Homo sapiens: one gene and its partners. The protein of the gene in region 1 interacts with the protein of each later gene in a biochemical or structural test. Each region holds a gene or a part of one and is shown in the gene's direction. Other genes may lie near its edges. The genes, in order: PFN1, WASL, ESR1 and ENAH.

Evidence for each region.
Region 2: the proteins of PFN1 (region 1) and WASL form a complex in vitro, tested with the Homo sapiens proteins (2 studies listed by BioGRID).
Region 3: the proteins of PFN1 (region 1) and ESR1 form a complex in vitro, tested with the Homo sapiens proteins (one study listed by BioGRID).
Region 4: the proteins of PFN1 (region 1) and ENAH form a complex in vitro, tested with the Homo sapiens proteins (one study listed by BioGRID).

Annotation. Positions count from the first base shown.
Region 1 is NC_000017.11:4,944,912-4,953,040, reverse strand, and holds PFN1 (profilin-1), read left to right. Parts: upstream 1-4,510; 5' UTR 4,511-4,646; coding exon 4,647-4,778; intron 4,779-6,220; coding exon 6,221-6,413; coding exon of another isoform or gene 6,414-6,634; exon of another isoform or gene 6,635-7,043; coding exon 7,044-7,141; 3' UTR 7,142-7,389; downstream 7,390-8,129. Other genes in the region: ENO3 (beta-enolase), read right to left, coding at 151-246, 1,127-1,213, 2,411-2,435; E3 ubiquitin-protein ligase RNF167, read right to left, coding at 8,025-8,129. UniProt on the Homo sapiens protein: Binds to actin and affects the structure of the cytoskeleton. At high concentrations, profilin prevents the polymerization of actin, whereas it enhances it at low concentrations. By binding to PIP2, it inhibits the formation of IP3 and DG.
Region 2 is NC_000007.14:123,738,447-123,746,146, reverse strand, and holds part of WASL (actin nucleation-promoting factor WASL), read left to right. Parts: intron 1-7,700. UniProt on the Homo sapiens protein: Regulates actin polymerization by stimulating the actin-nucleating activity of the Arp2/3 complex. Involved in various processes, such as mitosis and cytokinesis, via its role in the regulation of actin polymerization.
Region 3 is NC_000006.12:151,943,291-151,950,990, forward strand, and holds part of ESR1 (estrogen receptor), read left to right. Parts: intron 1-882; coding exon 883-1,218; intron 1,219-7,700.
Region 4 is NC_000001.11:225,649,774-225,657,515, reverse strand, and holds the start of ENAH (protein enabled homolog), read left to right. Parts: upstream 1-4,554; 5' UTR 4,555-4,825; coding exon 4,826-4,830; exon of another isoform or gene 4,831-5,151; coding exon of another isoform or gene 5,152-5,198; intron 5,199-7,742. UniProt on the Homo sapiens protein: Ena/VASP proteins are actin-associated proteins involved in a range of processes dependent on cytoskeleton remodeling and cell polarity such as axon guidance and lamellipodial and filopodial dynamics in migrating cells.

The DNA of each region.
Region 1 (8,129 bases):
CAGAGGATGAGTTTTGGAGCTCAATCAACTGGGCCCCTTTCTGTGGACCCCAGCTCCTCAAGAGCCTTGGGGGTTCCAGTCCTCTACCCATTGTGCACCCATGTCCTAAAGCCGCCCACACAGGCTCCTTCTGCGCTGGTGTCTCCTCACCTTTCCCCAGGTAGCGGCCTTTGTCTCCGTCTCTTAGTTCCAGAGCCTCATAGATACCCGTGGAAGCCCCACTGGGCACAGCTGCTCGGAATCGGCCTGGGACAGGAGGAATTGGAAGATCACAGGGATGGCTGGGCGCGGTGGCCCATGCCTGTAATCCCAGCACTTTGAGAGGCCTAGGCAGGTGGATCACTTGAGATCAGGAGTTCAAGACCAGCCTGGCTAACATGGCGAAACCGTCTCTGCTAAAAATACAAAAATTAGCTGAGGCCGGGCGCGGTGGCTCACGCCTGTAATCCCAGCACTTTGGGAGGCCAAGGCGGGCGGATCACGAGATCAGGAGATCGAGACAATCCTGGCTGACACCGTGAAACCCCATCTCTACTAAAAATACAAAAAATTAGCTGTAGTCCCAGCTACTCGGGAGGCTGAGGCAGGAGAATGGCGTGAACCCGGGAGGCGGAGCTTGCAGTGAGCCTAGATCGCGCCACTGCACTCCAGCCTGGGCGACAGAGTGAGACTCCATCTCAAAAAAAAAAAAAAAAAATTAGCTGGGCGTGATGGCACAGGCCTGTAATCCCAGCTACTTGGGAGGCTGAGGCACAAGAATCACTTAAACCCGGGAGGCAGAGGTTGCAGTGAGCTGAGATTGCACCACTGCACTCCAGCCCGGGCCACAGAGCGAGACTCCATCTCAAAACAAAACAAAACAAAAAAAAGGACCTCACAGGGAGTCTCTCTACCTCTCAAAGGGCTGAGGTGTCCTCTCTGAGCTCAGGGACAGGAGGCAGTGCAGAGAGAGACTCCTGCTTCTCCTAGCTTCCAGCTCTGGTTCCACGTTGGAAGAAGGGGGCTTGGGAAGAAGTCTGGGAAAGGGAACCCGAGAGAAAGGAGAGGATATGGCACAGAACTGGGGGGCAAAGGCCAAAGGGTTGGGGTCTTCGGAGGCGAGCCTATCCAATGGGCCTTGTGTTACCCTTGGCCGTGTGCAGGTCCACCTCCACCGTGGGGTTGCCCCTGGAGTCCAAGATTTCCCGGGCAAAGATTTTCTGCATGGCCATGGCTGCAGGACAGGAGGTGTGAGTGAGTGTAGACAGTTGATCTCTTAAGGAACCAGAAATCCCTTGCCCTTTAAGATTCTTCCCCACTCCAAGAAGGCAGGTGCTGGAGCTAAAAATACCCTACAAAAAGGTCACAGACCAAAGAGGCAGGCGCAGCCCCCTCCCCCACTCAGAACAGCTCTTATTCCACCCTCCCATCCTAAGAATCCAGGGGCCTCTTATCTATAGCTCCTGGGATGCCACCGCTCACCAAGCCCCCACCTCCCCCAAGCCTCCACTTAGGCCTTCTCCTTCCACCCCTCTGGTCAAGCAGTCTGTTCTCCATGGCTGGTGGCCTTCAAATCCTTTCTGGTTCTCATTTTCCTGCTCCGAAATCTCCTTGGGCCCCCAATTCCCTATCAGGTTCCAGCTCTAGCTGCCCTTTTCTATCCATCCCTGCTGCCCTCCTCACAGCCTCCTTTCCCTAGATCCTTCGGTGTTCCCAGAGTTTGTCCCATCTGCTTGCTCCAGCCGCCCCTTCCCCCAGCTTTTTCAAGCATCTCCAGTCCCAGGAGGAAAAAAAGCAGAAATGTCCCCCACTTCCTCCAAGCCAATACCATGCTCACCCTTTACTACCTCCACCCCCAGGGCTGGAAGATTCACCCGACCTGGGATGTCTTCGCTGGAGGTTTGGATGGAGCTCCGAGTCTAGGTGGCAGCTGGGACAGTGTCAGCTCACCCCCTCTCAGGCTGCGCATTTATCCCTGAGCCACTCGGTCCCCAGCCAGCCCCGCCTCTCTTTCTCTCCATCCTCCCCCCTTCACACTGGGCTGGCAGCCAAGTGCCCACTACAGCCTGAAGCAGAAGCCTCTGGCCCTGGGCACCTGCCCCCTTACCAAAGGTCAACTACTATCCCCCACTTTCTGTCTCCCAATAACAGTCCCTGTTCTAATTCCACCCTTTGGGAGGAGCAAGGGAGGGGCTACAGATGAGGGGTCTCCCCCCACCCCAGGATTACATTCCCCTTTTGCAAACGTCAAGAGGAATGAGTGACCTTTAGGAAAGGCCAGGGGTAACCTGAGCCCTGCAAGGCTGGGGAGGGGGCCTGGAAGAGGGGCTGCAAGATTGACGTCCACACATGCTCAGATCGCTGGGCGGGCCTCTGTCCTCAGTGGGGGAAAGGACGGGACCCCCCACCCCAGAAGGCGAGAGGGTCTCACCTCTTAGGGTCCTCATAACGGCCATTCTCGGCGCCGCCCCATCCTACCCTCTCCAGGCCAGCCAGCGCCGGGATGAGTTAGGGGACAGGAAACGAATTTAGACAGGCCCTTTCGGCTGGCAAGGCGCCCGACTGATAACGCTGGGACAGCACTTGTCGCCCGGCGTGGGGACTGTCGGTCAGAGCCCCTTTCCCCATCGACTGTGGGCGCTCAGCGCACGGCCCCAGCCCATCAATGAATGGGGCTGAATCAACAGTGAACAAAAATGAATGGACCGAGGACGGGTGGCCTTTTGTGAGCTTCTGCACGCCTGGGGCTCTTCCGGCGCCCCACTTGTAGCACTGCGGGGAGGTAGGTCTCTGCCCTCGGTAGAGATCTCCACTTTGCCGGCTCTGGGGCCAGTGCGGGGTCTGCCCCGAGCTCCTCTGCAGCCATACCAGCCGACCGGCGGGGGACACACGGCGCCTCGGCCCGACTCGGAGGCCCTTCCCGTCGGCGCCGGGGCAGCGCGCGCCCGGTGACTCACCCCCGCCGCCCTCTCCCCACCCCTGCTCCCCGCCCCGCCGGCCCGCGCGGCCTCCCAGCCCCCACCCCAGGCCACCTGCCCCGCCACCCGTCCAGTCTCCCCTCTCGCCCCGCCCCCTCATCTCAGGCCGCTCCTCCCGGGATTTTTCCACCCTGGGGTAGGGGTGCGGTGGGCCAGGGGTCAGGAGATGGCGGGCGGGGAGCGCCGCCACGTGCCCGGGTGCGGCCCCGCCCGAGCCCGCCAGTGACTCAGCCGCGCGGCTGTCGAGGAACACGGACTCGAGGGGCGTCGGGGACTGTGGGATTCGGCGTGGACGCCAGGGATGCGCGCCGCGCTCGGGAGGAGAGAGAAAACCAACCCCCTTTCCGCCCGGGCCGCGCTCGGTGACCCCTTGCCCCTAGCCCAGGCTCCGGAAGCCGCCCAGCCCTCGGCGGCGGGTCGGAGGAGGCGGTTTCACCGCGGCCGCCGCACGGCCGTCCCGCCCGTCCCGCCCTCCCCAGGTGGCTGTGAGCGCACATCTGACTGCGAAGAAACCCAAAGGGCCCGAAGTGGGACTTTCCCCTTCTTGAAAAAGTTGCCACTCTTGCAACTTGAGTATTCTTCCGCCTCGAAAAATAGCCCCGCCTGTTAAGCCCCGCGGGTGTCCGCGCTCTGTGACCTCTGCAGACACAGGCCAAGGGGCACGGCCGGTGATCCAGACATTGCCTGCCTGGGGCGGGCGGGGCTGGGATGTGGGGTGAGGCCCTGGGCTAGAGCCGATCCAGAGAAGGGACAATCCTCTAGACTGAGAATGGGCCCTGGTGAACCCAACCTGCACGACCCGAGAAGACGCTGGGGACAGAAGTGGCCCCGGTGGGTGCCTTCAGCTATGAGAGCGACTAGAGGATTTGGCCAAACTCTTCTTTGCTTTCTTATTACTTGAATAAGTAAAATCAAGGGTGGTGAGGCGGCAGCGCGCACGGCTTCGCCCCCGCCCCTTCCGCCAGGCGGGAGACACGTCCCCAGCCCGCCTTCCTTTCCCGCAGGGTCCACACGGGTCGGGCCGGGCGCGCTCCCGTGCAGCCGGCTCCGGCCCCGACCGCCCCATGCACTCCCGGCCCCGGCGCAGGCGCAGGCGCGGGCACACGCGCCGCCGCCCGCCGGTCCTTCCCTTCGGCGGAGGTGGGGGAAGGAGGAGTCATCCCGTTTAACCCTGGGCTCCCCGAACTCTCCTTAATTTGCTAAATTTGCAGCTTGCTAATTCCTCCTGCTTTCTCCTTCCTTCCTTCTTCTGGCTCACTCCCTGCCCCGATACCAAAGTCTGGTTTATATTCAGTGCAAATTGGAGCAAACCCTACCCTTCACCTCTCTCCCGCCACCCCCCATCCTTCTGCATTGCTTTCCATCGAACTCTGCAAATTTTGCAATAGGGGGAGGGATTTTTAAAATTGCATTTGCAAAGTTCGGTGTCTGGGCTGGCGAGTGGGGGAGGGAGGGAATGGGGAGTAGGCCCCGCCCCTACCGTCCTTTGCAAATAAAAATCTAGCGGGGCGGGGGGGGGGAGGAGCAGGAAGTGGCGGTGCGAGGGCTGCTGCACAGCGAGCGGAGCCGCGGTCCGGACGGCAGCGCGTGCCCCGAGCTCTCCGCCTCCCCCCGCCCGCCAGCCGAGGCAGCTCGAGCCCAGTCCGCGGCCCCAGCAGCAGCGCCGAGAGCAGCCCCAGTAGCAGCGCCATGGCCGGGTGGAACGCCTACATCGACAACCTCATGGCGGACGGGACCTGTCAGGACGCGGCCATCGTGGGCTACAAGGACTCGCCCTCCGTCTGGGCCGCCGTCCCCGGGAAAACGTTCGTCAACATCACGGTACTGCGAGGCCTGCGCGGTCCGGGGCACTGCTCCGGTTTGGACCCTGAGGGAGGGACTTGGGTGGGGGCGGGCGCGGTCTAGGGCGCGCAGCGAGAGGCCCTGACTGGGTGCTTGCCCTGGAAGCGGCGCGAATGGCGGCTGCACGTGAGTGGGTCCCTCAGTTGCCCGTAGGTCCTATGCCCCAGGCGGCGGCGCCCATCCCGCCCGCTACCCCGCTTTCCGCGACGGGGCGTTACATCCGGGGCACAGGGCGGGGAGGGGCGCGGCGCCCGGTGCGGCGGCCCACTTCCGCCTCTCCCAGGGCGGGGCGGGGACGCGCCTCAGTTTTTACTGGGGATTGGGATTGAGAGGGGACCCGGGGATCCTTGGACCCCCAGCTCCCCGTCCGGCTGCCAGCCCGCGTCCCTCTACCATTGTTTCTCCTGGTGCGGAAGGGAGCCCCAGGCGCGTGGTCTTGGTCCCTTGCCCACCCTCTGTGGGCTTCTGGCCCCTCCTAACTCCGTTAGAGAGGGCGAGGCCACCACACGCCCCCCCAGCTCAGCACGTTGGATTCAACATTCCTGCGAGGCCAATCCCGGAAGTCCCCTCGCCCTCCCTTCCCGCCATCCGGCGGGGCCTGGAGCAGGGGAACTTTGTGAGAAGTTCTGAGACAGCATAAGCGAAAGTATATTGGTTTACTACCGCTGCTCCCACCACCATCTCCCTGTCCACACTGCCCGGAAGTGGGGAGGGGGAGCGGAAGTTCAAAAGGGGGGGGAAGGGGGTTTCCGGGCGGGAGGGGACCGGATGTGGGGGCTTGGGGTGAAAGGGGGAGGGGGGAAAGGTTCCCGGGGTACCTAGACCCGAGAGCTGGCCTGCCGGGTCTGGCCCCTGTCCACCTTCAAAAGTTTTCCAACTTTCCCGGAAAGCCCCCAGGGGTCTGCTTCCTCATCTCAGAGCAGAGATACCTGGAGCTAAACTCTAGGTTACTTGGAGACCCAGGCGTCCGGGCCCTAACAGCTCCTGCAGAACCTTTGACCAAATAAGGGCAAAGTTGCTTCTCTTGCCTCGCCCGCCCCCCTCCCTTCCCCTCTCCGCTTCTGCTTTTCCTGAAGGAGAGTTCTGAGCATCCAAAGGCTCCTCACTTACCTCACTGACTCCCTTTATTTCCTGGGTTTACTTTCCCCATTAACACTGACATCTAAATCTCTAGAGGAGTATGTCATCCCTTCCTCCCTGGTTCCATATTCTAAGTTTCAGAATCATGATCTTTTTCTGCACTAACGTCCCACAGTCCTCAGAGTTTCTCACAGTTCATTGATGTGTACTGAGTATATAATTTATACTTAGCCCCCACGGCGGGGTGGTTCTCAGAAGTGGAAGACAGGTGGGTCTTTGGAGAACACGGTGGGAATCTTGGTGCACTGACTAACTTGATGGGCGCTTGGTTCCTCTTCCAGCCAGCTGAGGTGGGTGTCCTGGTTGGCAAAGACCGGTCAAGTTTTTACGTGAATGGGCTGACACTTGGGGGCCAGAAATGTTCGGTGATCCGGGACTCACTGCTGCAGGATGGGGAATTTAGCATGGATCTTCGTACCAAGAGCACCGGTGGGGCCCCCACCTTCAATGTCACTGTCACCAAGACTGACAAGAGTGAGTTCCTGAGTCTTACCCTTCCTTTAGCTCCAAGATCTCTAATGTACCGCCTTCTGGTAATCTTGAGGGTGCTTTTTTGTGTGATTCCCCAACATGAAGGGAGTCAGACCAGTATTGTGTTCCTTGTCTGCTGGATGCTGGAACACGGGATAGTCCCTCCATTCTGTCTCAGTTCCTCATCTTGTAATTCGAAGTTGCTGAACTGCATTACCTCTTAAATTACTTACTGCCTTGAGCTCGGATTAGAAACTGTTTTCTAGGAGTATAGGTAGATTGTTGGGGTCTTGAATCATCGAGTTCATCGTTTGAGTTCTTTTGTTAGAACCTGGAGGTGGCATGCACATCCACAGCCCTTTCTAGCCTGAACACATGAATCAACAGTCTATGAGCCTTTGACCCCTAAGTTTTTAGTCTGTTCCTCTCCAGCGTTTAAGCTTGATTTTCCTCTTTTGAAAAGCCTTATTGTTTCAGGGTGACTGACAGCCTGCCTGTGTGTGGTGGGGGGGCGGGTTGGGAGAGATGAGGTTGGGTTACAGCCCCCAGGGCTGGACAGCTGCTGAACAGCTGGCAGGGGGTGGAATTGTGACACCTGGATCCTAGCCTCCTTTCTCTTTCCTCCTCCTCCAGCGCTAGTCCTGCTGATGGGCAAAGAAGGTGTCCACGGTGGTTTGATCAACAAGAAATGTTATGAAATGGCCTCCCACCTTCGGCGTTCCCAGTACTGACCTCGTCTGTCCCTTCCCCTTCACCGCTCCCCACAGCTTTGCACCCCTTTCCTCCCCATACACACACAAACCATTTTATTTTTTGGGCCATTACCCCATACCCCTTATTGCTGCCAAAACCACATGGGCTGGGGGCCAGGGCTGGATGGACAGACACCTCCCCCTACCCATATCCCTCCCGTGTGTGGTTGGAAAACTTTTGTTTTTTGGGGTTTTTTTTTTCTGAATAAAAAAGATTCTACTAACAAGGTGCTGTGTGATTTGAGCTTGGGTGTCAGAATGGGGGATAGGCACTGTGACTTGCCTCCTTTATCGTGGCTTGGGAGCAGGGAGGTTGAGGTACTACAAGGTGCAGGAATTTGAGCTTCTGGCCAGGTGGCCCTGCCCCTCCACAGTGGCATTTCCAGGCCTAAGTCCTCAGTGTGCTGGTCAAATTGGTGGATGATGGAATAGAGCCATCTGGACCAGAGAATGGGTGCAGGCCTGCAGGCAAGGCAGGGCTAGTTGAGTCATCCTTGTGGGTGGGGCTCCCCCTTCTGAGTCATAGCAAATGCCGGCTGGGGCTGTCCCCATGACTATAGGTTAGTGTCTCTCAGCATTCCCTTGCTCCTTATGGCTAAAGGGGTGATTCCACCAAAGGGTTAAGTTCACCTGTGTGAGAATGATCTTACCCTTCCTTAGTCCACAAAGAAACAATTTTATTAGCCCAAGAAGTGAAGACCCAGTCCCTCTGCTTGCCCCAGCTCCACCCCAAAGCCCCTCAAAAGGATAGGTGTGGGTAAGGGAGAAGCTTGGGATGGAATGTCCCCTATCCCTCAGAAGACTGGAGGGAAGACGACGGTCTGTGCAAATAGGTCACCAGAGGTGTATGTGTGGGGGGTTATTAGACCAGGATAACAGGGGAAGAGGGAGGGGACAGTGGGGGATCTGTTGAAGGCCCAGGAAAAACAAGGGGAGCTGGGGCTAAGGAACCAAAGGAGGTGGGAAG
Region 2 (7,700 bases), on another chromosome or scaffold:
TTTCACAGTAGAAAATGCCTTGGCTTTGTAACAGCAAATGTGGGTTCAAACTGGGGGTCACTTTGGACAAGTTTCTTGAGCTTCCTATCCTAGATTTGGTTTTCTCATCTGTAAAACAAGGATACTATCTCATGGGGTAGTTGTGTGGATTAAGACTGTGTATAAATATATGGAAACTATTTTTATAAAGGTTTAGGGGATTAAAGGAGAGAATGGTGGGAGAGAGGATGATTAAAAGCTTTTTAAAATGGATAACTGATTATTTATATTTAAACAGGTACTCCCTAGGCTGATGAGAGGTATGAAACAGCTTGAAAAGTTAGGAGACCTACTAATAAGTTTGTTAGGTTTGTTAGGGAGCAAGGAGGGCTTCTGCTTGGGCTCTCAGATTTAGGTATGAATTGGAATCATTGTGGAGATTATGAGAAATGCATATGCCTAGGCCCAATTCCTAGATATTACTCAGAATCACTGGATCTGAGGTGAAGCTTGGACATGTCTATTTTTAGCAAGCTTGACAGAAAATTCTAAAGTATATCACAGTTTGAAAACCACTGCTAAAGTCCACGTTGTCTGATAGGATAATCCTTGAGCACATTGGAAATCTTAATAGATTTTTCTTCAATTTTTGGTCTATATTTTGCAAATTGAAGCTAAATTAAGTTAAACCAAATTCTTTTAGTACAGCATTTCTCTCACCGCTGAAGATACCAGTGTACATTTCACAACTAAGAAGGAGATACAGTTGGGGAAGTATTGCACTATTTAATGGGGACTCACAAGATCATATTTGACTTAGAAAATTTTCAGGGGAAAGGTGGAGGCAGTATAGAAGGTGGATTGAGGATTGTGAGGGAAAGACAAGGGAAATCAGATAGTTGATTTATAGTATTGCAGGTGAAATATGATGAGGGCCTGAATTAAGAGAGTACTTTGGGAATTCAAGAACAATTAAAGTCTCCAGCAGAAATTAGTCCCAGTTATATATAGAAGGTGAGGGAAGGGAGTTTCAATAAAGGCAGGCATTATAACCACCAGCAGAAAAAGTACACAGAAACATATTTTTATTCTCATTCGCTGCAAATATGCCTAAATGTTAATGAGACTCTGGATTGGTGATTGGCTTCATGGAGGAGGCAGATCATCAGTAAATCTTTTGTTTTACCACAGTTTCTAAAAATTCATTTTGTGGAAATTGAGATTTCATTGTAATACATAAATACATGATATGTACTTTTACATAAATAGTTCTGATGCCATTCATTAGCTGGTAGTATTATGAAGGGAGAATGAGAAGGTTATAAACAAGATTACTAGGTCTTATTTTGTAGTTAGATCTGTTGCCTTTCATGTAGTGTGATTCAGTTAATTTTATATAAAGAGTATGTGCAGTTTTGCTAAGTGAAGTTCAACATATATAGTCCTGAATAAGTGAGAAACTAAGGAATAGGAAAAAATAAAACATTAAACTACGTCTCTACAGCCATATCTGGTTTATATGGATTGGGGCTGATAATGTTATTGAGCATTATCTTTCCCTGCCATACTCACCTGGTTTGTTTTTTCAAGATTTAGTGATACTTAAGCCATTTTTATTAATCAACCTTAATCTTTATTTCCTTTAACTCCTCAGCACTTGTTTTAACTTGCTTATTTTCTTTAGTTTTTTGTTTCCTCACTATATATAATTCTTGGAGATAGACTTTATGCCTAGGTAGTCTTCTATAATTTTTGTAACTTCTGGCTCCCAGATCAGTGAATACTTATTGATTGATTGAATAATTATAATTACTCGTTTATTTTTTAGGAGCTCATTCTGCGTTTCTTATTGCTTGATTAGGTTGTTAAGCCCTTCAGTTTCTAATGCACATGGTATCTGGACTTTAGTCTTCATTTATTAAGCGACCGAAATGGTTTAGTTGTGCTGCTGAACTAATATAGGTGGTAACAGTTGTCTAACAGTAGTTTGTTTGTGTTCTAAATCAGACCTGTTGGGTAGGGATTCTTACATAGGCATACAGGGAAGGATATGCTTAGAGGGATCATTGTATTGATGATGGCCTGAGTAAGGCACTGTTGGTGGAAAGTTTAGACCGGGAATGTATTTCACCTTGAGTAGTAAGGAAAGATAAAAGTTAAAATTCACTGGATTTGGAATATACAAAGATGAGAAGATACCTTTGTCTAGTATAGAGGAAAAAGATGAGCACAAAAATGTATGTGACGCAGCGTAGCTGTAAGCACAAGAAGAGATTCAGAAAAGTCCAACAGGGTTGGGTTATGAATTTTACTTCTGGTTATTCTTAGCTCTATATATATAATACAGGGACATTTCTTAACTAGTCTCAGCCTTCATGTCTAGATTTGTAAAATGGGCTTAGTCAAGGATTTCAAAGAGTAATTCAATCATTATGGAAAATACTTAGAGTCCATGACACAAAGTATTCTGGGAGTTTGGAGGAGCATATGAAAGAAAGTTGTTATGAATACTATTCAGTGCTCAGTTTAGATTTCCTGTTACTGGCAGGGAGGATTTAGAGTAAAATTTTCAGCTCTATATTGTATTTGTTTTGACTTAGGTAAATTAACAATTTTAAAGTCAGTTAATTATAGGTGTGTAAATTAAAAGTTAAGGAGCAGCTTGAATGTATCTCTTTGGGGAGTGTCTGGGCAGCCTGAGCCTCCCTGGCTGCTAATTGAAGAGGAAGAAAGGGGTCCTGATGAAAAAGTTAGGAGTTCCTGAATTTTAGTCCATGCTCTGCTACCATACATTGTGAATATGAACAGGAATTTTTTTTTTTTTTTTTTTTGAGACAGAGTCTTGCTTTGTCGCCAAGGCGGGAGTGCAGTGGCACGATCTCGGCTCACTGCAACCTCGGCCTCCCAGGTTCAAGTTATTCTCCTCCCTCAGCCTCCCAAGTAGCTGGAACTACAGGCGTGTGCCACTACCCCTGGCTAATTTTTGTATTTTTAGTACAGACAGGGTTTCACCATGCTGGCCAGGCTGGTCTCGAACTCCTGACCTCAGGTGATCTGTCCGCTTCAACCTCCCAAAGTGCTGGGATTACAGGTGTGAGCCACTGTGCCTGGCCATTTCTCCCTTCCTGAACTTCACTTTTCTAATTTGAAAATGAAGGGTCAGACAAGATAACTCCACAGTCTTTCCAGCTTTAATGCTTAATCAGTTTAACTATTCTAGATTCCAGGGACTCTAGCAGGGAAAGAACAGGCCTAATGTTAACTCTAGCATATATGTGTTTTGCACAGCCGAGACTAATATAGCATATATCTAAGCAGAAGGTAGATAATCCTGAATTATTTCATTGAAAATTCCCATTTTTAATTCACCTTTTTCTAAGCATTGTAATTTAATAGGCATTTCACTTTTAAAACAGCAGAGTGAACAGAATAAAAAAGCATTAGTAGTAGAATTACCAACTCTTAGCTAACTTAGAATTATTATTTGTAATTATAATGTATTTTTGGGTTATTAGAAACTGCTTTTTTGGTTAAGATGGAATTATTTTTAAGAATTTCTCTTTTGTTAACCAATTCCATCTAGAATCCTAATTCTGGATGAAATTGTATTAGTGATATGATAGGTGTTACATGTTACTGCTTATTTTCCAATATTAAAAAAATCGGTTTTTAGTTTCAGTGGTAGACTTAATAGTTATAGTGAATTGACTTGGTTACTTTAGAGACTGATTCAAGATTGAGGTTACTGTGGGGATTCATTTGTGTGATTAAAATAATCTTGGTTTTCTTAAATTTTTTTGTAATGCACTGGACAACATGCTGAAATTATGGCTTATTATATTAGTGAATTTTGTATTCCTGAAACAGCATACCAAGAGACACTAGAACCTTTGACAGAACTTTTCTGAAACCCAAATGAATGCCAAAATTAGGCATGCTTTTAAGATGCAAAGGGCTGGGTTTTATCTTTTACTGTCTTTCTTGCTTATTCAACTTCTGTTCTTGCTGTGCTCTGGATATTAGAAAGCACAGCTCTTGAGGAAAAGATGTGACTGGGCCTTTTGAACAGTGTCTCTTTCACCAAGTTCTGCCAGTCACTCTTTGGCCATCTCTCTGTTGTGGACAGTTGTAGGGATTTTATTTAAAATATACTATTTTTTTAAAAAGTTATCTTTTAATGTAAAAATTGTATCTATGAGTAATATCAGATTATAAAGTCTGGAAATAAAGTCTTGATTAGAGAGCAGGTTTGATTAGGACATTCAGGATTCCTCATAACATATAGAATTGGAGCTACTTAAGCGTTGGCCAAAGTACAGAGGAGCCGGGTTCTATTTGTTTTGCTGCTGAGCAATTCCTACCATGTGTATCAGTATTCTAGTCTTCTATAGTAAGATTTTTAAAAAGTCTTTATAAAAACTGGTAAGAGCAAAACTTTCCTAAGGAAATGCATGCTTGTAGTAATCTCATGTATTTCACTTTTGTCCATATTCTATAGATTTTTTAAATAAATAATATTAATGGAAGTATAATGGTAGCCCATTCTAGTTTTGAGTAGAAAAACAGATTTTAAAAGAGCAGATAAGGGTTGAACTTTGTTATAATTTATTCTGTCTAGAAGTCATAGCTTTCCTAATAGAGTTCACTCTTACTCTAAAGGTTCTAGAAACAAAAGTTTATACATTCATAGTCACAGTAATAGGATATACATTGTTAACTATAAATATAATTCTTATAGGTCACCTAGCATCGTTGATGGATTCTTGGAAACTGTGACTTTAGGTGAAACAACACATAATGAAACCAGTTTTACCATAGGGTAATTGATATAAACAAGAGCTAAGTTTCTGTAGCATATATCACCAAACTTCTAAATAAAGACAAAAACACTTCTAATATTAATTAATGAAATAAATGTGAGCTGTAACACATTTAAGAAAGAGTAATAAAAACAAGATAATTATTTACCCAGTTACTTCACTTCAGTCTCAGGTGGCTGGAGCCTATCCTGGCAGCTCAGGGTACAAGGCAAGAACCAACCCTGGACAGGACATCATCCCATCGCAGGGTGCACTCATACCTACACCCACAACTCACTCGCACACTTGCTCATCCTGGGATAATGTAGACAGACCAGTGAACCTAACATGCACATTTTTGGGATGTGGGAGGAAATCCAAGTACCCAGAGAACCCAATAGACATGGGGAGTACCTGCAAACTCCACACAGACAGTGACCCCAGCTTGAAAATGATTTTCTTTTCTCATCAAAGTTAATAATGGGCTGGACGTGGTGGTTCACACCTTTAATCGCAGCGCTTTGGGAGGCTGAGGCAGGAAGATCACTTGAGGCCAGTAGTTTGCCACCAGCGTGGGCAACATAGACCTAATCTCTACAAGAAAAAGTAGCTGGTAGTGGTGGCCCATGTCTGTAGTCCCAGTTACTCCAGAGGCTGAGGCAGGAGGTTCACTTGAGCCCAGGAATTCAAGGATGCAGTAAGCCATGATGAGGGCATTGCACTCCAGCCTGGGCAACATAGGAAGACCTGGTCTCTTAAAAACAAAAAAAAAAGTTATGATGAAAGGACATTGAACAAAATGATGTTGAACAAAAGGATGTTATTTGAGGACCTGCTGTATTAAGTATTTAGTAATTAGGAGACATTTGGCATGCTTAACCATATTCATAAATATAGTGTAATACAAAATAAATCTTATTTATTGCATCTATGTTAGTAGTCTCAGAAGTATTCGAGAGTTATACTGATATAATAGCATATAGGAGAGTAAAACTAATTAGAAAACATTATTTTCTCATAGGAGTTAATGCACTGTAGAGGAATTGTAACCCTTTTTTTAAAGAGACCAAATAATTGACTGTAATGTTGAAGAGGTAAATACAGAAAAGCCCCTCAAGAAAATGTGATCAAATGAAAGATATATATATAAAAGATAATATATGAGATATATCTGACATATGTATGAGATATATATGTCTTATCAATCAACTCCTTTACTAATACATAAACTGATGCATAAACTAGCTAGAAACTGAAATGATTTTTATTAGTGAAACGTAGTCAAGTCTTGAGGACTTACTAAGCACATAACACCCTCCCAGTATCTTGGAATATGAGGGAGCAGTAAGGAAAATCCAGGTTTTACCCCTCAGTTATTCACTGTATAGCTGAAGAAGACAAAAATTATGCACAAAAAGATATATGCTGCAAACCAGCATATATATATATATATACACACACACACACACACACACACACACACACACACACATATATAAATGTATAAAAGATTTGAATAATAGAGAGGAGAGATAGGTATATCATTGTGGGACTTGAATATGAAAAACCTTAAATAGCCTAGAGAATTGATGTCAGAAACAAGCAGCTTATCAGGTACAGATGCTCTTCTACTTATGATGGATTATGTCCTGATAAACCTGTCGTAAGTTGAAAATGTTGTAGTCAAAAATGCATTTAACACACCTAACCCACCAAACATTATAGCTTAGCCTAGCCTTCCTTAAATGTGCTCAGAACATTTACAATAACCTACAGTTGGGCAACCTGATGTAACACAAAGCCCATTTTATAATAAAGTGTTGAATATTTTACATAATTTGTTGAATACTGTACTGAAAGTACAAAACTAAATGGTTGCATGGGTACTCAAAGTATGGTTTCTACTGAATGCATATTGCTTTCGCACCATTGTAAAGCTGAAAAATTGTAAGTGGAACCATCATTAGTTGGGGAGTGTTTATATCAGGAAATGTGTAAACAAAAGTTTGGGATAGAAAATGTGTATAGAATTTTAGGAGGCATTGAGGAGACTGGTTGGCTAGAATTGAGAATGACATTTGCTTGGGCAGATAGTGGATGGTAAGTTTGAAGAGTAAATTGAGGCTAGATTTTGGAAGACCTTTGAACTTCAAGTCTTAAGGATTGAACTTTATTCCCTAGAAAGTAAGGAAACACTAAGATTTCTTCAAGAAATTTCAAGATAGGAAGGATCTGGAGAAAGAAAATTGGAAATTATTATTCATAATAGAAATAAGGATTGAGTAATACTTTATTGTTTACTAAATTTCTTATTTATTAGTTCAGCACATCAGATCTGACTAAGAAACCTGGAATTGTGGCAGCTTCTAGAGCAAGCTTGTCCAACCTGCGGCCCAGGATGGCTTTGAAGGTGGCCCAATCCAAATTCATAAACTTTCTTAAAACAGTTTGAGATTTTGGGTTTTTTTTTTGCAGTTTTTTGTTTTTGTTTTGCTCATCACCTATCATTGGTGTTACCGTATTTTGTGTGTGACTCAAGACAATTCTTCTTCTTCCAATGTGGCCCAGGGAAACCAAAAGATTGGACACCCCTGATGTATAGCAAAAAAAAGGACTAAGTCCTTGATGTATGTGTCCATGGCAGACACCAACAATCACAGCATTTTTTCCTACTGAGTTCAGACATGGTTTCTAACTACCTGTTGTATTCCTAGAGGCAACCACTACCAATTGTCCAGGTTCACGATAGATGAAATCTAGTTGTCATTCCAAGGCTAGATACCAGAAACGTGAAGAAAAAATTGGCAATATTTAATTGGCTTGTGAATTCTGGATGACAACAAAACCTCATACTATAAATGGCTAGATAGTAGGAACTAGAACTTTGGACTCTAGTGTTGATTATTGCGGCTGTGGGAGTGG
Region 3 (7,700 bases), on another chromosome or scaffold:
AATGGCGTGAACCTGGGAGGCGGGGCTTGCAGTGGGCCGAGATCCCGCCACTGCACTCCAGCCTGGGTGACACAGCGAGACTCCATCTTAAAAAAAAAACAAAAAAAAACAAAAACAAAAAAAAAACCACCTTTGGGGGGAAATTATCAAATAAAACAAACTCTTTTTAGAATTTTACAACTTTTATGTTAGGAAAAAACAAATACATTTGTGAAAAGCTTAAAATCCAGTAAATGACTTGAGGGACTTGGGGCAATCCTAGGGTGATGAGGAGCAGGTTAGTAACAGTGAAGGACTTAGCACCCCAGGGGGCCAGAGGCTGTAATATACCTTATGAGCAAGTCATTCTTATTTAGTCTTGCCCATTAAGAAGTCTACTTGGACTAAATGCTTTTAAAAATGCCCTTTTAATTTACTATTAAAAGAATATTCCTAGCAGAAGTAGTCTTGGATGCTAAATTCTATTTTAAGAATAACTAAAATTAGAATTCTGTTCTTTTTATAACACCTGTTACACACACACCCCTACCTAGTGTGTCGGAATCAGTTTGTATGGGCTCACCAAAGCCTACTGTTCAATTTTCAGGAGTTTTGTAAGCCATTTGATGTCAGACAAGTGGCCTGAAGTTTGTTATGGTGGTGGTATTTACACCATGAAAATTGGCATGTTATGGTGGTAGTATTTACACCATGAAAACTGCTACAAATAGAAATCTTTTTCTTCTTCTCTTGGAGAGCCACTTGTTGAACACTTACCAGCTCACCTGTGCTTGAAAGTATTTCTTCAAATAAAATGAAAGCTGGTTAGCTTTGAAAATTTTTTGTATAAAAGTTTACACGGGAAAAAAATAAACTAATTTTTTTTTCCACCTGTGTTTTCAGGGATACGAAAAGACCGAAGAGGAGGGAGAATGTTGAAACACAAGCGCCAGAGAGATGATGGGGAGGGCAGGGGTGAAGTGGGGTCTGCTGGAGACATGAGAGCTGCCAACCTTTGGCCAAGCCCGCTCATGATCAAACGCTCTAAGAAGAACAGCCTGGCCTTGTCCCTGACGGCCGACCAGATGGTCAGTGCCTTGTTGGATGCTGAGCCCCCGATACTCTATTCCGAGTATGATCCTACCAGACCCTTCAGTGAAGCTTCGATGATGGGCTTACTGACCAACCTGGCAGACAGGGAGCTGGTTCACATGATCAACTGGGCGAAGAGGGTGCCAGGTAAGAATGCGAAGCGCAGCTTTTAAGAGTCAATAGCTTTTCAAGAACTTGTTGTGATGTCATGGGAGAAATAGTGGGGGAAAAAGAAGCAATAACATGTTATGTAATTGGTTTCAAGGTTACAGGAGATGTGTTCATTTTCAGTATCAATACACTGTAATTTTCCAGGAGATTAGGAAATAATATTTTTAAATCAGAATCTAGAAGACTGAAATTCTTAAATTGACATAATTTATTTTTAACCCATCTCATTTACCAAAAAGATTTAGGGTGGACACTACATGGTAAAACTATTTAATAGTGTATGTTCACAGTAGCAGAAACTTTTAACACTAAATGAACTACAAAAGTTTGTAATATTAATGACCTTTGTTGAAAACATCTCAATTATTAATCAAACGATTTTATCTTAAAAAGATTTTTAAGATTCGGTGTGGTGGCTCGTGCCTGTAATCCTAGCACTTTTTGGGGCTGAGGTGGGAGGATTGCTTGAGCCCAGGAGCTTGAGGCCATCCGGGGCAACGTGGCGAAACCCTGTCTCTACAACAAATTTTTAAAAATTAGCTGGATGCAGTGGCACACACCTGTGGTCCCAGTTATGGGGGAGGCCGAGGTGAGAGGATGGCTTGAGTCCAGGAGGTCAAAGCTACAGTGAACCATGTTTGTGTGGAGTGCCACTGCACTCCAGCCCAGGTGACAGAGCAAGACCGTGTCATAAAAAATAAACCACACAAAAAAAGAGAAAGATCTTTATGGATTAAAAAGATAATAATAAGTGTATTTACTGAATGCCAATTATTTATCCAACCTGGTGTATGCTTAGTGTTTTAGGAGAAAGAGAAAGGCAATGGAAAAATAAATTAAGGTATCATCCCTGAAAGAAACTTTTAGAAAGACACAGTGGCTGAAGTGATACCTTGTTCCTTCAGTTGATTCTCTCAGAACTGGTGTTCTGGTAAAATTGGACTGTTACTCCTGTTATTCAGGGAGAAGAACTCAAGTTTGTATGGCAACAAGACTAGAAAATGACTTTCTCCCTGCCCCAGTGTATTCGTTCAGGAGCTAATGTAGATAAACCGAGGCAAGAAGAAGCTAAATTTTTTTTCTGGGCTTATAGGTTAAATGAGTGATAGATTTAGTTGGAGGTTTTCTCATTTGGTTTCTTTTAATAGATGAAATTAATTGTTTCCTATGAAGCATGAAATGTTTTATATGAAACTAAAAAAATGTGGAGTTTGTACTTGCATTTCAAGGGTCACTGCTCTGTTATAGGCCAAGTGAACTTATGTCTGGCCTTAGAGAATCTTACATGTATTTGCATCTATCAGTATATAAACATGTGGGCCGTAGAATAAGGAGCCAGCAGTACCAGAACCCAGCCTTGTTAGAGGCCACCATTTTGGTGGTTGAGTGGTTATTAGTTTACATGGAAGCATGGAGAATAATAGGCAAATGTAGGTTTTCAGTGTCAGTCGAACTGGCAAACAAAAATTTCTGGTCATCTTCAGAATGAAAAGTTTTCTTGAGTACCTACATATTTTAGCATTTTCATATGAAGCAGATACATTATAAGTTAATTGTTGGAATCTAATTGTAATATGGCTGTAAGTTTTTTCTTTATATTTGTTATTGCCTTGTTCTTATATTATAGGGAAAGAGAAACAAACAAACAAGCAAAGAAACTAATGGTCATATATTTGAGAGCCAACTCTTGGTTGCTGTTCAGTTTTATTTTCCTGTAAACATATATTTTCCCTTATGAAATCTTGGGAATATTAGCTCTGGAGCACTGCTGAACTCAAGTACAGACATTTTCATGTGTATCAGTAGATTCCCATCATGACATTTTTATAATAATGTTGAAGAGCATTTTAAACAACTGGAATTAAGCTCAAATACATTACCAGTGGTTGAAGAATTCACATCAATAATCTTCTGAATTTAGGAATAAAATGGAGAAGTCAAGGAAAGGAAAATATTATACACAGGCTAGCAATAGTTAAAATACAATTATTAAAGCCAGAGCTAGACAAAATTATGGCAATGAGATGTGTAACAAAACCACTCTGTAACTTCATCATGTTCGTTTAAAAGACCTGAATGATTCCAAAATCCTTAGACCAATAAACTATGTCTTCTTACTTGATAATTAAAAAAAAGAATTATAAAGGCAAAAATGAAATTATATGTATGTGTGTTTGTGTGTGTTCCATGGGAATACAGCTGTTGTAAATCAAAGGCCTACTTGCCTGACCAAGCAGAATAAAAATAGTCATTGATTTTAAAGAGACTAAAAGTGAGGGAAGAAAAAAGTCTTCTGCAAAAGCTCTACAGATGGTTGTCAAACTTTTCAGAAAAATAGACAAAGCAACATTTTGAAAAGGATTTATATCTTTTATATATTCAAATACCATCTGTTATTTAAAAAACATAGCCCACACTGAATATCTGATATAGACAATATAACGTTTATGAGATAATAGTTTGAGAATGACAATAATAATAGTAAGTTTTAAAAGAGGAAATAAGCCGGGCACAGTGGCTCATGCCTGTAATCCCAGCACTTTGGGAGGCCGAGGCGGGTGGATCACCTGAGGTCAGGAGTTCAAGACCAGCCTGGCCAACATGACAAAACCCTGTCTCTACAAAACAGTACAAAAATTAGCCAGGCTTGGTGGCACACATCCATAGTCCCAGGTACTTGGGATGTTGAGGTGGGAGAATTGCTTGAACCTGGGAGGCAGAGACTGCAGTGAGCCGAGACCCCACAACTGCACTCCGGCCTGGGCAACAATGAGACTCTGTCTCTAAATAAATAAATAAAGAAGGAAATAGTAAATGTCATTAGTAAGAAGAATAGCAAAATTTCAGTTCTAGAAATACCCAGAATTAGCTATATGATACAAAAACCCTCATGAAACATTTGGATAATCCTCAGAATACCTATCAATATAACAAAAACTATGAATTGACTTCATTTTGAATGATGAATTTTTAACAAAAATAGTCAATACTTTGGGCTTAGTAGCTCTAGAAGTGCTTCTTTCTTCTTTCTTTTAATTAACAGAATATTGTCAGAATTTTCAAATGTTGATGATTATAAGTTGAATTTTCCTTTTCATTAACCCCTGGGGCTTATTTTTTGACTTGATATGTTTCTCTACTCAGAATTAAGATGTGAAGAGCTTTGGGATAGAATGCATCATACAAGTGTGAGAGTCAAGTTCCAATCCATAAAGTACTTCTGGTAGACCTGGATAAAGATGACCTTAAGAAATGATTTTTTTTCTCTTTGCAGTTTAAAAACAACAGTAGCAACAAGAATGATAAAACCTATGAAGCCAGCTCTGACAAAAGATGTTTTTTTTATAACACATACTATGTATCTACTTTTTGATATTTATCTATCGAGAAGACTTTTCTCCTTATTGTTTGCTCTGAAATTTGTTTATATTTAATAGGAATTTTATAGCCTTATCCCTGGGTAGAAATTCAGTTTTTTTAAAAGTAGATAATTAAATCTTAATTTACTATTATTTTACACATGGTGAAACTAGTCAATAAATGTAATATCATTGAGCTGAAGGTTAAAAAGGAAAAAATATGACTGCAAGAGTGGTTGTATTTTTGATTTCAGCATCACACTCAATTGCATCATTGAGTGGTTCATTCTTAGTTTCAGTGTTAATGAAATACATCTGAGTTTTTTTCCCCAGAAGCTTGAATTGTGTCACCAAAGTGTCATTTTGATTTATTGAAAGTTAAGCCCTTTCCAAAATTCACCATAATTTTACATGTCTCGAAAGCAATTTTATACTTCAAGTCTGTGCTATAGTTCTATATATTTTATGAAGATTTGGATAGATATCTAGCCCTGAGTTTTTTATTGCCTGTTAAATACTTATAACCCAAAGTGTAGCAGCCTCATGAACTGCTGCTGGGCACAGATCTGGGAGAGTGCACTCAGAGTGTTGGCCCAGGAAGAGGAAAAGAGGAAAAGGGGCAGTTCAGTGGCAGCTTGGCTTCCTGTGAAACATGTCACCTTAACCACTTCCTCATTCTTTTAGTGGCAAACTAGACGACCTTCTCCTTCCCCTTTCCTGCCGAGTCCCCCTCTAATCAACACTCTAGAAGGCCCCTCTTCCTCCTCAGTCCTGACTCCCTGTCATTTACTTCAGGTTGCCTCCTTGCTCAGTTTTGGCCCCAGGGGTAGGCAATCTCCTCTTTCTGGACATGTCTCCCACCAGCCCCAAGTTCAGATTTCTTGGAAGTTTCTGTGTTGTCTCGAGGATGCATGGTTGTGTGAGTTATTCCAGGGCTCAAGGCCTCTTCTGTGTCTGTATTCCCCAGGAATCCAGGAATTCACTTCTCTGCCTCTCATCCTCATCCTCATCATTAAAATGAGCAGATTTGAGCTCAGGAAGTGCTTGAATAAATGAATAAATGAACAAATGAAAGGTGATTTTTGAAAGTCTTAATTTTAAGAAGTCTCTGAGCCCTGTTACAGCTCAATTTTCCCATAAACTAGAACTGCTCTCTAAGGCTGTGACATTTCTCCTTTTTCCTCTCCTCAAAATCTACCTGCTGTTCTGATATCTCCCTGACAGCCACCATAGTGAGATTCTATTTCCATTTCCAATCTCTCTTTTGTAAGGGACAGAGAAACAGCTAGAGAAATATGGAGCCATGCGCTCTGAGGACTTTAGCAGGCTTCAACTCTATCTGCAAGTGAGTTTCACTTAGCGAATGAAATTGGAAACTTAAAGTGGGTAGGGATGAGGGTTCCCGGAGAAGGTGTAATACCTCAGTCTGGGAATTGGGAGCATCTACAAGGAACACACTCAATTCTGGGAGGTTCCTGTAGATTTCAGAGATTTAGCAGGGCTTCCCAGCACTCTGCTTCCCAACCTGTCATTGGACCAGTAAACCCTGCTCTCAAACTGTTGTGGTGTCCAGCATGCTTTGGCAAGGTAATGAAAGATAACATGACATGGACATATGGGTGACATCCTGGAGAGATGACAGAAGCCTCTGTTTAAGGACAAGATTTGCCATTTAGATTTTGCACCCACTGTATAATAAGAGCCTTAGGATTGGGCTGGAATCGCCCTAGCAGGCATGATGGCAGCCCCTCTGGACTGGCAATATGCAGCTTTTTTGCAAGTGTTCCATGTCCAAGTCACCCCACCCAGCTTTCTACTGCTCCCGTGGAAGCTCTGGTGAAACGCAAGGAAAGCAGCTGCTGTTGACTGGATTTTTCTTTCACATGAAACTTTGAAGCCTCATAGATGCTTATTGGCCTGGATGCTATTAAACCTTTAAAAATCCCTTTCTCATCTTGAGAGTATTTGAGAAACATGTCTGGGGCATTTTGCCCACCCTCCTCCAGGTTCTGTGTCAGTGAGTGATATGGTTTGCCTGTGTCCCCACCCAAATTTCATCTTGAATTCCCATCTGTTGTAGGAGAGACCCATGGCAGGTAGTTGAATCATGGGAGCAGGTCTTTCCCATGTTCCTGTGATAGTGAGTAAGTCTCAAGAGATCTGATGGTGTTAAAAAGGGGAGTTTTTCTGCACAAGCTCTTCTTCTCTTGTCTGCCACCATGTGAGATGTGCCTTCCACCTTCTGCCATGATTGTGAGGCCTCCCCAGCCACAATGGAACTGTAAGTCCATTAAGCCTCTTTCTTTTGTAAATTGCCTACTCTGGGATGTGTCTTTATGAGCAGTGTGAAAACAGACTAATACAGTGAGTCTGGGTCAGTGTGTGTTTATGTTGAACGTAGTGGACTTGTGGTGTCCCCAGGGCACCCTGTGGGGAATGTTGGCCTGTGGCTTTGCTACTTCCAGGGGGATTTGGCATGGAGAATGTGTGTTTTAAGTAATAGATAGATTATGATTGAAGTGTGTTATGGGCTGAGTTGTCTCTCCTCAAAAAGACATGTTAAAGTCCTAACCCCCAGTATCTCAGAATCTGACCTTCTTTGGAAATAGTGCCTTTATATAGGTAATCAACTTCAAGTGAAGTCATTAGCACAAGCCCTAATCCAATAAGGACTGGCATTCTAATGAAAGGGGAAATTTAGACATAGAAACAGACATGCACAGAAGAAGATGATATGAAGAGACACAGGAAGAGGACGGTCATGTGACTGGAGTGCTGGGTCTGCAAGCTGAGAAATGCCAAGGTTTACTGGCTAACATCGGAAACTAGAAGGGGCAAGAGTGGACTCTCCCCCTCAGAGAGAGTATGGCCTTGATTTCAGACTTCTAGCCTCCAGAACTGTGAGGCGTACATTTCTGTTGTTTTTGAAGCCACCTAGTTTTTGATACTTTGTATGGGAGCCCTAGGAAATTAATACAAAGTGTATTAAAAATAGAATTTTCTTCTATTGTATTTTTGAGGCAAAAGAAATAAGGAGCTATTGATTTAAGGAGGAAGGTTTGGCTCATCTAGTATAGACTTGGCTAATCATTTACTCTT
Region 4 (7,742 bases), on another chromosome or scaffold:
TGGGAGGCCGTAGCGGGTAGATCACCTGAGGTGAGGGGTTAGAGACCTGCCTGGCCAACATGTTAAAACCTGTCTCTACTAAAAATATGAAAATTAGCTGGGTGTGGTGGCGGGCGCCTGTAATCCCAGCTACTGGGGAGGCTAAGGCAGGAGAACCCCTCGAACCTGGGAGGAGGCTGCAGTGAGCAGGGCTCTCACCACTGCACTCCAGCCTGGGCAACAGAGCAAGAGTCGGTCGAAAAAAAAAAAAAGCATGGGTAAAAGTTTATCTAAGAGAAAGTTGAGGTCTATATACTTGATGTTAACAACAGAGTATATTTCTTTTGATGAATAGTTTTTAATTAGAGAAGTCATTCACTCATTTATTCATTCACCTTTTAAATACCTAGGTGCCTACATGATGGGCCAGCCATTGGGCCTTGGGCCAGCAACCCTTATGAGAGAAGAGTTCAAATGATTTCCACTATTCAGCCAAGCCAACACAATCTCAGCTAATTTTTAGTTTTTAATTTTAATTGTTTAGAGACAGGTTCTGTCTCTCAGGCTGGAGTGCAGTGGCTGGATCATAGCTCACTGCAGCCTCGAATCCCTGGGCTCAAACAATCTTCTTGCCTCAGCCTCCTGAGCAGCTGAGACCACAGGGGCGTGCTACAATACCTGGCTCATATTTTTTTTCTTTGAGACGGAGTCTCGCTCTGTCTCCCAGGCTGGAGTACAGTGGCACAATCTCAGCTCACTGCAACCTCTGCCTCCCAGGCTGGAGTACAGTGGCACAATCTCGGCTCACTGCAACCTCTGCCTCCCGGGTTCAAGTGAATCTCCTGCCTCAGCCTCTGGAGTAGCTGGGATTACAGGCACCTGCCACCACACCTGGCTAATTTTTTGTATTTTTAATATAGATGGGGTTTCACCATGTTGGCCAGGCTGGTCTCAAACTCCTGACCTAGTGATCCGCCTGCCTCAGCCTCCCAAAGTGCTGGGATTACAGGTATGAGCCACCGTACCTGGCTACCTGGCTAATTTTTTAAAAATTTTGTAGAAATGGGGTCTTGCCATGTTGCCCAGGCTGGTCTTGAACTCCTGGGCTCAAGTGATCTGCTGCCTCAGCCTCCCAAAGTGCTGGGTTTACAAACCTGAGCCATCATGCCAGGCCCAGACCTAATTTTTAAGCAGAGTTTATGAGAAGAGAATCAGCTTTAATTTTTATTGCCTTAGTGCACTCTCATCCCATAAGAAGGTAGTTTGATATAGTCGAAGGAACAATGGACCAAGATTTGGAAATCCTGAGTTTAAGTTGTGGGCAAGTTACTTAACCTCTCTGGGTCTCACATTTCTTTTCTGAAAAATGAGTGGGCTGGACCGAAGATTCCTTCCATCTCTAAAATTCTTTTATTCTATATGGTAACACATTCCACAGCATTTCCTTTGTGACCAGAATTAGTCTGTGACTTCCTACCTCAAGTATCGCTTTGCACTCTTTGAATGTTAAACCAAATATGAACAAGAAGCAATAACATTTTGTCACAGCCAACAAATTGCCCTTCCACAGAATGACCTTTGGGGGTCAGGCCACCCATTGCAATATCTAAATCCAAAAGGCAATGAATGCTATGACCAACTTGTGAGCTGGCAGGCTGCCATCCAAAAGGATGGAAATGGTTGTAGGCAGCCAAAATTCTTGGCTGGTACATTTTTAATAAACATAGAAAATAAGAACAGCATTTTCCACTTGGATTGCTTAATTTGGTGCCCATACCATTGGAACATTTGCTGTTAGAATAAAGATGATGTGATATATCACTTATTTAGCGCAGGATGGATTAACTTTCACAAATGAGAAGTAGGTTATGGAGTCATCTGTAAGGAATTTTTATCCTTGTTTCTTGTGTCTGGCAGGAGATAGCTTGAGTCATTACAGCACTCTCTCCACCCCTTTTGGCCCTTTGTAAGAGTTTTCCCTGAAACATAAGCTCTGTCGGATTTACTGTATTGCTATGAATGGACTAAGGCAAATTGGTGTGACTTCTCTGTGGTCGAATATGTTTTATTAATACTTTTCCAAGATGGTTCAATATGTCTTAATTTTTCCAAGAAAAAACTCTCCACAGCACATGTTCAAATACTTGAGGTATGTGTTTCAAACTACAGGGAGAAACTTACGTAAGACAATGACCCTCATAGTTGGTAGCTATGATTTTTAATCATGCCTGTTGCACTAATTGATCCAGTTACTTGAGCTCTATGTTTCCCTGTCTCTACTTGCAATATGGCAACTAGAACATTTGACTGGCAAGTTTGTTTTCTCTCCAGTGGTTGGAGATCCTTGAATAAAATGCCCTCTGTAATGGTAAGCTGTAATTAGATATGTGGGTGGAAATTAGCGTTCTTCAAGTACACCATGTTTAAGGCAGAGGCATCATGCTTTCTACTACCTGAGGCCACCTTGATCCTCTGCCATAGCTCCGGGTCACTGCTTCTATAGGGCTGTTGGTCTAAGGCTGCCGGTTCCAAAAAGAAAATAACTCGGTATTGAGCTCTGAAACCAGGAATTTTATTTATTTATTTATTTATTTATTTATTTATTTATTTTTTAGATGGAGTCTCGCTCTGTCACCTAGGCTGGAGTGCAGTGGTGTGATCTGAGCTCACTACAACCTCCTCTTCCCGGGTTCAAGCGATTCTCTTGACTCAGCTGGGATTACAGGCGTGCACCACCACGCCCGGCTGTTTTTTTATTTTTTATTTTTAGTAGAGACAGGGTTTCGCCATGTTGGCCAGGCTGGTCTGGAACTCCTGACCTCAGATGATTCGCCTGCCTCAGCCTCCCGAAGTGCTGAGATGACAGGCGTGAGCCACCGCACCCGGCTGAAACCAGGAAGCTTTTTTTATGGTTAAAAATGGGCTACACAGTTCAATTATAGACAAATCAGGCATTGACCACGGATCACTATAACCTGTCTTTTCATTTGGAAGTGTACATTATCCCAACCTTCCTAACTATCTTTTGAATGGTACCTGCATCTTAAAACAAAACACCAAAACTTTTGAATGGATTCCTGGAGTCATGGTAGGTCCTCCATTTTGGATGAGATCCTTCAGCAATAGGATCCCTGTAGCAACAACCCTTTTCTATCCTCCTCACCTTTTATACAGAAAGTACATCCCTGTCTTCCGGACTAAAAGGGGGCCGTAATTCGTACAGTTAAAAATTTTATTATTGGATTTGTTTTTAGATTTAAAAAAAACCGAAAACAAAACCTTCAACAACGATCAATTCTGGCTTCCTGGATGCCCTCCTCCCCGACTTGACTTGAAATGAAATTGCCTCGCCAGTATTTTATATCTACTTTTTAAGGGAGGTGACTTCAAGACCATTGGGAATGACGAAAAATTTAAAATTATCATTAGTTCCTCTCTCTCCCCGCCCCCTGCCCGGGATTCCCTCTTTGCTAATGACGCTGGAAAGCGGCTCCACTGGCTGCGTTTCTCTTCTTCCACTCTTGCGGCAACACACTGTTCCGCGCGCGTCTCCCGGCGACTGCGTTTCCCCGAGAGTCGGCTGCGTTCGTTTGGGGATGAAGTCATCCCTATACCTAGTGTGCACATCAACTCGTTCCATCGGCGCAGCACGCTGGGATTCCTCGGGAAGAAAAGGAGCGAAGGGAACAATGATGACCATATTTTCCATTTATATGCCCCTCCTCAACTCCGCAGGAATCGCTGGGCGCAGCCGCGGCGAGGGCGGGCAGTTGGGCTGACCGGGATGCCCCCCGATTCCCTCATCCCCGTCCTGAGACCGCAACAGGGCGGGCTGAGCACTCGCCCCGCGCGAGGGCACCCGGCCGCGAGCCGACCCGGAGTCTCCTGGCCCGGCCCTGTGCCCAGTCACGCGTCCAAGCTCCCCACGCCGGTGCCTACGGGTCTGGCGCCCAGGAGGTCTCGGCGCCTCGGTCTCCGCACCGTGGCCGTGGGGGAGGCCTCGGAGCTCCCCAAGCCTCTGGGGAGCGGGAGGCGACGGGGAGGGGGCCGACGGTCAAGGACAACCACGGGCGAGGAACCCCGGCCGACAACTGGCCGGAGGTGTTGGGCGGGAGGGGGGGGTGGTGGCCCGCCCGAATCCCAGAGGGGTGCAGGGGGCGGGGTAGGGAGGCAACAAAGAGCCTCTCTCCGCCGCCGCCGCCGTCGCGCTCGCTCTCTCCCAGCCTCGCTCTCCGCAGTCCGGCGGGGGCCCGGCCGCCGGCGCGGGGGAGTGCGCCCGGCCCCCCGCCTCCCCTTTCCTCCCCTCCCCCCGCACCGCCCCCTCGCCCCCGGGGGAAGGAGGGGAGGAGGGCGGCGCCTGCGTGTTCCTCCGCCGCGCGCCCCGCCTCCTCCCGGGTTCCTCGCGGCGATCCCGACTCTCCTCCCGCGGCTGCAGCAGCTGCCGGTTGCACACGGCCTCGGCGGCGGCGCGGCGAGCGCGGGCCTGTGGAGCGGCGGCCGGGCGCGCGGCCCCGGCGGGCACCCCTCAGAGGGCGGCCGAGGAAGCTCCGGGAGGAGGAGCAGGACCACGAGGAGGTGGGAGGCGGCGGCCGCCTGGGGACCAGCTCCGCGCCTCGGCCTCTCCGCCCCCTCCCCAGCCTTTCTCTCGCCCTCTTCTCCCACACTCCCGGCCGGCGCCTCGGCTTTGTGCGAGGAGATGGTGTAGCCCCCTGGCCGCCGAAGGAGGAGCCGGACACTTGTCTCCCGTCTCCGAGCTGCTCCCCACCCCTGGAGGAGAGACCCCCCCCTCGGCTCGGCGCCTTCTGCGTCTCCCGGCTGGTGGGGAAGCCTCTGCGCCGCCGGCACCATGAGGTGAGGGGCGCGCGGGGCGGGGGCCGGGCGGGCCATTGTGCCGCGGGAGCCGCGACCCCCGTTCTCCTCGGACCCCGCCTTCCCTCTCCCGGCCCGGCGCGTCTCCCCTGGTCTCCGGTCTGTTCCTCCCCCCTCCGCCTTTTGTCCCTTCCAATTTCTCTTTCTTTCTTGGAAACCTCCCCAACCCGTGTGGTTTGGGGGTCTCGCTTCATCGTTCTCTCATTTTTCCTCAAATGCTCTTCTTTCACCCAGGATTTCCCTTCCTAAATTTAATTTGCGCCTGGCTCCCTCCCCCAAGCCTTTGCAAGCGAAACCCGGGAGATGGGGAGGGGTTCGAGAATCGAAGCGTGCGTGTTGCTGGGAAACAGGTATTTTTTCGTATATATGTAAAAATTTCATGCACTTTTGCCTCCGAACTCTCGTGTTTAATTAAAAAAGGAAGAAAAGTTTGAAAGGTCTGAAATCTCTGCGGGTAATAAAGTGCCTCTGGTAGGGGTAGGTGAAGGAGCTGTGAAAGGTGAAATTTCACGATGGTGGGGGAAGGGAAAGAATTGATTAGGTTCACGTGGTGGGGGCAGTAAAAGACTGGGATAAGTAAGTTGGTAGGGGTGTGTAAGCGGGGGCGGGGAAGGGATCTGTTTGGAAAAGCCTTTTCTCCCCTTTCTCTGTAGCAGCCTGTGTTGCATTGCAGCAGCTGCTTTTTCCCTTTGCTCTGTACTCAATAAAACAGGAGCTAAATTATTTTTGCGGCCCCGAAGAATTGAATGTACTGTCGTAAAATATTTTTTTAATTGATACGATGAAACATATGGTATGATATTTTTCTTTATTGTTTCTCAAATTGTGTAGGAGAATAAACCGTGATGTGGTGTGTCATTCATTGGAGATTTTTTTTCCAGCCTTTCCTAAACCTGTTCTGTGTCCATAACCTTCTCTTTTCGGATTGGTGCAAGACTTCGTGTGAAATGGGACTTGGTAGACTGAAGGCTGATCCATTCTGCGTTATCATCCTTAAAGGCCTTCCTTTTGGGTTAAACAATTGTGGATAAAGTAAATTACTCCATTTCTCTCTCCTGGAAGAGATAGTCTTACAGTTCATTTGGATTTGAATCTCCTTTGTGTTAAAGATTAATGGCCAACCGTTGCTAAGACCTTTATAATGTAATACAATGAGATTTGAATGATATAATCTACAAATTCCTTCGCTTTGGCAAGAAAATGTCATGTCATTGGAATTCTTTCTCAATTTCGGTAGTTTCCATTTTAAACTTTGCTTTTCATTTTTTTTTTCTATCAAGGTTAAACGTGTTTCCATTTTGCTTTTATATATATATTGTGATATATCTTTGTTGAATTTTTACTTAGGCTTACTGTGAATTTGAATTTTTTTTTCTGATTCCAAGTTACCTGTATTTATGATGGCCTTAAAGAGTGAGTTTAATGTGGTGTCTCTAGGCGACTGACCCCTTTTCCCTTGATGATTTCACACAAGTTATTTTCAAATATAAGCGATGAGTTTAAATAGTAATTATAGCATACGAACCAAAAAACACAATCTTTGTAAAATATGGCTTGAAAACTTTGAGTCGTATGTTTGAGCATGACTTCTTTTTTTTTAAATCAAGTTACTGATGTCCTTAAACTCAGGAACTATAATATACATACTGTTATATCTTGTAATATTATATGTTGTTGGTTTCTGTTTTAGAGATCTAATGCCGTAGGGATCTTGCAGACCAGAAGTTATCAGTTGTTTCAAACTTTGGGTAAACTTATCTTAACATTGAGAAATATAAAACAGGGAAAGTTTTTTTTTTTTTTTTTTTTTTTTTTTTTTAAATGCAGTCTTGCTCTCTTGCCCAGGCTGGAGTGCAGTGGCGCGGTCTCGGCTCACTGCAACCTCCGCCTCCTGGGTTCAAGCGATTCTCCTGCCTCAGCCTCCCAAGTAGCTGGGATTACAGGCGGGTATCACCACGCCCGGCTAATTTTTTGTATTTTTAGTAGAGACGGGGTTTCACCATGTTAGCCAGGATGGTCTCCAACTCCGGACCTCGTGATCCACCAGCTTCGGCCTCCCAAAGTGCTGGGATTACAGGCGTGAGCCACGGTGCCTGGCCGAAAGTGGGTTATTTTTAAATAAAAACAGGAATAGTTGTCTAATTCAAAGATTGTGAACTAAAAAAAAGTTACCGTTTTGGGTATTCAGTGAAGTTTAATCACTGTCATGTATAGATGTCAGTCTGTCACAGGTAAATTATGTCTTCACTTGAAAATTCCTTTTCTAATAAAAAGTAACTTCTGTTTTTCAAGCTCTTTTCTTGCTCTGTTCCTTATGAAGTGTAGAGAGAGAGGAACCACGCTGATGTTTTCCAGTAACGTAAATATAGAACTTGGTACACAGGTCTGAAAAGTTTATTTAAGCAGTCTACAGTAATTCTTCGTAGGCTAATTTTGAATAAGAGCAGGAAAGAGGGTCAGCTTTTCACTTTGGAAGGTACTGGATTATTTGGCAGGTGGTTAGGTAGTACTTAGATTTGCTTAGATACCTGTAAAAGTGAGATTGGTATGGGATAAAACGTTCTTGTGCTGCTTGCAAAAGTCTTTGGAATATTCTTTGGGATATTTTGGTGCTTAGGAAGTGCTTTTCAGGTTATATTAATATATGCTTAGTCTTCATGCTTTCAAGTCCTGTGGGACGTTAATGTTAGTCTTTTAAGTTGAGTCCTTTTTGGTTATATTAAGAGGTAGTTCTGATGTTTCAAAGGCCATCCAGAAATAGGAATGCCTGAACAGGAATTTCCAATTAAGTCGGTCAGAATCCTGAACAGAGGATATGATGAATATATTACGGTATAACTATTAGTGGTATCTGTCAGATGACTTTAATTTTAGGAATAGCATGATCACTGTGT